Linked DNA regions of Homo sapiens. The protein of the gene in region 2 purifies or fractionates together with the protein of the main gene of each other region. This does not show direct contact. Each region holds a gene or a part of one and is shown on either strand. Other genes may lie near its edges. The genes, in order: MBIP and KYAT1.

Region 1 (3,822 bases), on a different chromosome or scaffold from region 2:
ATACTATAATTTTATGGGATCACTGTAATATATGCAGTTGACTGTTGACTGAAACATCCTTATGCAGAGCATGACTGTCATACACACGTTCACGCACATGCACACACACATATGAATCCAGGGAACCAGTGCTCTAAGGAAACTCAAGGGTAAGGAGGCCTCTTCCATGACTGGCTTGCTTTCTTTCAGTTGTAAAAGGCAACTGATTCTATGCGTGCAGTATCTAAAATGTTTTTCTTCCCTTCTAGTCCCAGAGCCCTGATTCAGACCTTCATTTCTCTCTGGCTTGGATAATGACATGTTTCCTAAACTAGTTTCCTTGACTCCAATTTCTCTCCAACTCAGACTTCATAATGCCACCAGACAGGGACCTAAATTACAAGTTTCTCTCTTTCTCTAAAACTTAATTGTGCTCCAATGATACTAGAAGTGCAAACTGGTTAGTGTGACCTTCAAGGCCCTCTGAAATATGTTTACAATCTAATTTTCTAGCTGAATCCAGTTGTTCACTCATGCTTCAGACCCACCACACGTTCACACGCACATGGCCTGTGTACATGATGTTGACCTGATTTTCAGCATTCCCCTCCCCCGATACTTCCCTTAAGAACCAGGAGTTACTGTTACAGACTAAAAATTACTCTCAGTCAGTGCTTTGAACAAAGTTAACACACCTTCAAAGTCCAATAATGAGCTATCAGCCAAGTCCTATCCATTCATTTGCACATCTACTCGATATTGACTACATTCTGTGTCTCAAAGATGAACAAGACATAGTTCCTGCCCTTGAGAGTTTCAAAATATAAAGTGAAAAACATGTATAAACATATGAGTGATAAATGCTATAAACTAAACAATATACTTGTAAAAGCATGTTGGTACTTACTGTTTTCAAGTATCATAATTTAAAATCAGTAAGTCTTTGGAAATACTCTAAGATCGTTCTTTTAAATGGACTGTTAAGGCCATGCCCTTAAACTTTTGAAAACATTACATTTAAAGCTTTCCATGGCTAATGTGAAGAATAAAGATCTTTAGAACTCTTATATCAAAATGTCCAACAAGTATTATTAACTTTTGTCATAAATCCTGTTTTATACACATATAACTTATTTTGGAGTTTTATGTCTGGTCGTAAAATGAGAACTTTACATAATCTGATTACATTTTATAAAACAAATACAAATGACATCTTTTTTCCCCATAAATATTTGTTTTTCTATGCTACGCTTCAATGTTACCCATGATAATCAATCTCTATCCAATTGTAAGAAGCTCCCCCATGTTTAGAATTCATCTACATGTGAATCTGAATAAACACATTTCAATGAAAATCTTTTCAGAGTTCAGGAGTTCCAACAAAAGTTCAATCCTTAATAAACTGAATGGGCTCAACTTTCCTTTCCTATCTTTAGAAGCTATAGGACTGTGCTACATATGTAGTTTCTTCTGTATACTTTTGAGGGATAAATATGTAAAATTATGCAATTACCATGCATGTACTCCCAGCATGATGGTGAGGGTGATGAATAATGTACTATGTCCTCTGTAAGGTATGTGCTCAACTTCTCCTGTTTGCAAGGACACTCTTAGAGCTGACTGTATTCCAAGTGAGGTTCCTAAAGATGGCTCATTCATCCTATTATAGAAGGGTGATGAGTATGAAATCTTCTTTCCCATAGGGCTTGTGTCATGTATGTTCACAGGCCTAAAGGACAGAATGAGTCTGAATGTTTAAACTTTCCAGTGTTTTGTTCTTCCTTGTAGCTCACTACTAATTTAATGTGTCACTTACAACACTAATCCAGAAGAACTGCAGTTCTTCTAAAAGATATATAGTTTTTTTTTTTAACATATTTGGAAATACTTTTAAAAATCACCTGTTTTATCACAGGTTGCCACCATCCATCCTTTTCTGAATGCTTAATACATATATGCCAATCCTCTGTTTACATTTACAAATGCTTCCTGCCCCTGAAATTAGGCAGTCACCAAGCTTCAGACTTCAGGCCTCAGACAATCTGTGTTCCTATCCATCAATGGACTCTCACACTACACAGACTCTCCCAATTGTCCCAAGTGTAAGTGCCGTATCTCAAAAAGCTTACCTGATGTTTTTACCTTCATAACCTCCTCTGCCTTCAAATTCACATTTCCCACAAAAGTATCTCTCTCTCTAGATTTTCTTATTTCTATCAATGATGGTATCATTTTTCCAACCAGAAACTGGACTCTATCCTTGTTCTCTGTCTCTTTCCACATCCAATCATCAGTATTTGTCCATTTTTTTTCCTACTTGCATTAATCTTTTCCATTCTCACTCATGTCCCTATTTTAGGAACTAACTTCACATCTAAGCTAGCATAATACTATCTCCTTATCCTTAGTTTCTCTCGTTTGTCTCCCACAACTGTATTAGATAAATCTTTCTAAATATCGTGTTCACAAATCACTTCTCTGCTCAAATGCTTTCAGTAGATTCCCCCTGCTGCCTGCCTGGAAAATAGATTTTAAACTTCTGAGCATAGCACTTAAGGTCCTAACAATCTGGCTACTTCTACCTCTTTACCCACTCTATCCTATCTGTAACAGATCAAAACAAAACAAAAAGATTATGATGTGGAGGGCTTTTTTTTTTGTTAAACACATCTATAAGTTTTGTTTTTTTTGTTTTTGAGACCGAGTTTTGCTCTTGTTGCCCAGGCTGGAGTGCAATGGCGTGATCTTGGCTCATCGCAACCTAAGCCTCCTGGGTTCAAGCGATCCTCCTGCCTCAGCCTCCCAAGTAGCTGGGATTATAGGCATGCGCCACCATGCCCAGCTTATTTTTTTTATTTTTTATTTTTTTGTATTTTTAGTAGAGATGGGGTTTCTCCATGTTGGTCAGGCTGGTCTTGAACTCCCGACCTCTGGTGATCCGCCCACCTTGGCCTCCCAAAGTGCTGGGATTACAGGCGTGAGCCACTGCATCCGGCCTCTGTTAAGTTTTTATAAATCAGAATCAGAGAGAAGAGAGGAATGATGCTGCAGCAAGTTCTCATTGGAGGCATCTGATTTTACCATACTCTATTGTAAGATCGGTTCTATCGTTAATAAGAATTATATTAACAAGGTATGAAATTGAACTAGAAAAATAACTTTCCTAGGTTATTGCCTTCTTTAATGAAGGCAGTTAGAATGGGAAAAACTTATGGTAGACTACTGTAGGAAAAGTCATTAAAAATCTTTATGAAGTCTCCTAGGAAGACATTCAAAGAATAATCCTAAAAGTGAAAAGACCTTTGTAATTATGTAGTACAACCAATACATTTTCTAAAATTAGACATCTTGAAGATCAGAGGAATAGAGTGACTTTTCCACGTTTATACAGCTACTTTGTAGTTATAAAACTAAATAAATGCCAATGAGGTTTTTACCATGTGCTAAGCAGTATGCTAAGTGTTTGATCAGCATTATCTCATTTGATCTTTGCTTCAGCCCTTAGTATTTTCATAAACCTCATTTTACATTTGAGAGTAGTAAATCACTAAAACTCTTCTCTGAAATTTTGTCATTTAGGACTTGCTGCTCCCTTTTGTTACGTGACCTGCCTTCTTCTTCTGGAAATACTTCTTTTCTGTAACTCACTCTTATACTCAATCTATAACTTTGGAAGATTGCTGTCATACCTAAAATAAATTTTAAATATATTTTCACCACTAACTTATATGATCCATGCTAAAATGGGCTATCTCACATAATTTTTCAGAAATAGGAGTTTTGGTATAATCTCACTTTGATATTATTTTAGTTCTAATATGGTACTGCTTTAAAAAAAAAACA
Region 2 (3,822 bases):
CAGATCTTAGATGCCTGAGAGCTACCCCAGAAGGGTCCTCGGCACAGCTATGGTCCCCATGCCTAGTGGTGCTGGGCCTCCTCGGTGCTGCCAGATCACCTGAGCTGCCTCCATTGCAGCAGTTATCCCACACATTTTTTTTTTTTTTTGAAGCGGAGTCTTGCTCTGTCACCTGGACAGCTGTCAGGCTGGAGTGCAGTGGCTCAATCTTGGCTCACTTCAACCTCTGCCTCTCAGGTTCAAGTGATTCTCCTGCCTCAGCCTCCCGAGTAGCTGGGACTACAGGTGCCCACCACCACACCCGGCTAATTTTTGTATTTTTGTAGAGACGCGGTTTCACCATGTTGGCCAGGCTGGTCTCGAACTCCTGACCTCAAGTGATCTGTCTGCCTCGGCCTCCCAAAGTGCTGGGATTACAGGCGTGAGCCACCACGCCAGTGAGCCAAGGTCACACAGCTGCACTCCGGCCTGGGCGACACAGCAGGACTCCATCTCAAAAACAAAAACCAAAAAAAAAAAAAAAACAAAAAAAAACAAATTGAACATAAATGGAATAATGGAAGAAATAGCTAGCTGTGGGGATGGCAACTCTGCAGCTGTTCACAGTTTGGGAAACCTGAGATCTGCATCCAGAGAAACTTCTTGAAGGCAAACTTATCAACATAAATGAGGAAAGTGGTTCTAAAGAAAAAGATAATGACCCAGAGGAAATAATACCAGCAAAACTTCACATTAAAGGAACTCCCTGGGCTGAGCGCAGTGGCTCACGCCTGTAATCCCAGCACTTTGGGAGGCCGAGGTGGGCAGATCACTTGAGGTCAGGAGTTCGAGACCAGCCTGGCCAACATGGTGAAACCCCATCCCTACTAAAAATACAAAAATAAGTCGGGCATGGTGGTGCGTGCCTGTAATCCCAGCTACTCAGGAGGCTGAGGCAGGAGAATCGTTTGAACCTGGGAGGCAGAGATTGGAGTGAGCCGAGATCACGCCACTGCACTCCAGCCTGAGTGACAGAGCGAGACTCCGTCTCAAAAAAAAAAAAAAAAAAAAGGCAGGATTATCTCACCACAAAATGTACAGAACAGGAACTCCCAGAGATATTTCACAACATTGAAAACAAAGGATGACTAAGGATGACTCGTATTCATCAAGACATAGAAGATGTCAGGTGCAGTGGCTTACACCTGTAATCCCAGCACTTTGGGAGGCTAAGGCAGGATGATTGCTTGATGCCAGGAGTTCAACATCAGCCTAAGCAACATAGTAAAACCCCCATCTTTACAAAAAAAAAAAAATAGCTGAGCATGGTGGTTCGTGCTTATTGTCTCAGCAACTCAGGAGAATGAGGTGGGAGGATTTCCTGAGCCCGGTAGGTTGAGGCTGCAGTGAGCCGAGATCACACCACTGCACTCCAGCCTTGGCAACAAACATAGAAGAAATGCTCATTCTGTATCCTAAATTAAACCACTGGAAGACTGCAGCACTGTTCAGTTCAGAATATTCTTTTTTTTTTTTTGGAATGAAGTTTCATTTTTGTTGCCCAGGCTGGAGCGCAGTGGCGTGATCTCGGCTCACTGCAACCTCTGCCTCCTGGGTTCAAGCGATTCTCCCGTCTCAGCCTCCTGAGTAGCTGGGATCACAGGCGCCCGCCACCACGCCTGGCTAATTTTTGTGTATTTAATAGAGACGGGGTTTCACCATGTTGACCAGGCTGGTCTTGAACTTCTGACCTCAGGTGATCCACCCGCCTCGGCTTCCCAAAGTGCTGGGGTTACAGGTGTGAACCACCACGCCCGGCCTCAGAATATTCTTTTTTTTTTTTTTTTTGAGACGGAGATTTGCTCTGTCACCCGGGCTGGAGTGCAGTGGTGCAATCTCTGCTCACTGCAACCTCTGCCTCCCAGGTTGAAGCGATTCTCCTGCCTCAGCCTTCCGTGTAGCTGGGATTACAGGTGTGCATCACCATGCCCGGCTAATTTTTTGTATTTGTATTTAATTTTTTTTTTCTTTTTGAGATGGAGTCTCGCTCTGTGGAGTGCAGTGCCGCTCACTGCAACCTCTATCTCTCGGGTTCAAGCGATTCTCCTGCCTCAGCCTCCCAAGTAGCTGGGATGGGATTACAGGCACCTGCCACTACACCCAGCTAATTTTTTTTGTAATTTTAGTAGAGACGGGATTTCACCATGTTGGCCAGCCTGGTCTCAAACTCCTGACCTCAAATGATCTGCCTGCCTACCGGCCTCCCAAAGTGCTGGGATTACAGGAGTGAGCCATCGCGCCTGGCCCAAGCTATTTGCAATAAAATTTTTTCCTTGATAAACTTTTATAACGAAAGAAAACGTCTTAATTTTCAGTGTTGCTAATATTAAATTACAGTGTACTAAGTTCTTATTAGTTTTTTTTTTTTTTCATTTTCTATACTTTTTTATTTTTAAATGACAGAGTCTCACTTTGTTGCCCAGGCTAGTCTCCAATTCCCGGGCTCCAGTCATCCTCTTGCCTTGGCCTCCCAAAGTCCTGGGACTACAGGCATGAGCCACCACACCTGGGCTACATTTTTAACAGATGGTAAGAGAGTTTTAAAAGGTCACAGAACAATTGTCTTATTAATTATTATTATCCAATAATAATTTTCTCGATTATTAAGTTCTCTTTGCACAATTTAAGTTTACATGGTCTTTTTTTTTTTTTTTTTTTTAAATGGAGTCTCACTCTGTCACCCAGGCTGGAGTGCAGTAGTGCGATCCTGGCTCACTAGAATCTTTGCCTCCCGGGTTCAAGCAATTCTCCTGCCTCAGCCTCCGAAGTAGCTGCGATTACAGGCACATGCCACCATGCCCGGCTAATTTTTTTTGTATTTTCAGTAGGGACGGGGTTTCATCATGTTGACCAGGCTGGTTTCAAACTCCTGACCTCAAGTGATCTGCCTGCCTCGGCCTCCCAAAGTTCTAGGATTACAGGCCTGAGCCACCACGTCTGGCCAACATGGTCTTTTTTTTTCTTTTGAGACGGAGTCTCGCTCTGTCACCCAGGCTAGAGTGCAAACGGTGCGATCTTGGCTCACTGCAACCTCCGCCTCCCGAGTTCAAGCTGGTCTCCTGTCTCAGCCTCCCGAGTAGCCGGGATTACAGGTGAGTGCCACCATTCCTAGCTACTTTTTGTATTTTATTAGAGACGGGCTTTCACCATGTTAGCCAGGCTGGTCTCGAACTCCTGACCTCAGGTGATCCGCCCACCTCGGCCTCCCAAAGTGCTGGGATTACAGGCATGAGCCACTGCGCCTGGCCTCAACATGGTCTTTTTCTGTTTTGCTTTGTTTTGTTTTTTTTGAGTCGGAGTCTCGCTCTGTCACCCAGGCTGGAGTGCAGTGGCACAATCTTGGCTCACTGCAGTCTCCACCTCCCAGGTTCATGCCATTCTCCTGCCTCAGCCTCCCGAGTAGCTGGGACTACAGGTGCACGCCACCACGCCTGGCTAATTTTTTGTATTTTTAGTAGAGACAGGGTTTCACCGTGTTAGCCAGGATGGTCTCAATCTCCTGACCTCGTGATCCACCCACCTCAGCCTCCCAAAGTGCTGGGATTACAGGTGTGAGCCACCATGCCCAGCCAATTCAACATGGTCTTTTTTTTTTTTTTTTTTTTGAGACAGAGTTTCGCTCTTGTTGCCCAGGCTGCCGTGCAGTGGCACGATCTCAGCTCACTGCAACCTCCGCCTCCCAGTTCAAGTGATTCTCCTGCCCCAGCCTCCGGAGTAGCTGGGACTACAGGCGTGTGCCACTATGCCCAGCTAATTTTTGTATTTTTTTTAGTAGAGACAGGC

What was found.
Region 1: the proteins of KYAT1 (region 2) and MBIP purify together in Homo sapiens (affinity purification with mass spectrometry; 2 studies listed by BioGRID and IntAct, with this or other methods). This does not show direct contact.

What each region holds. Positions count from the first base shown.
Region 1 is NC_000014.9:36,303,597-36,307,418, forward strand, and holds part of MBIP (MAP3K12-binding inhibitory protein 1), read right to left. Parts: intron 1-3,822. UniProt on the Homo sapiens protein: Inhibits the MAP3K12 activity to induce the activation of the JNK/SAPK pathway. Component of the ATAC complex, a complex with histone acetyltransferase activity on histones H3 and H4.
Region 2 is NC_000009.12:128,871,951-128,875,772, reverse strand, and holds part of KYAT1 (kynurenine--oxoglutarate transaminase 1), read left to right. Parts: intron 1-3,822. UniProt on the Homo sapiens protein: Catalyzes the irreversible transamination of the L-tryptophan metabolite L-kynurenine to form kynurenic acid (KA), an intermediate in the tryptophan catabolic pathway which is also a broad spectrum antagonist of the three ionotropic excitatory amino acid receptors among others.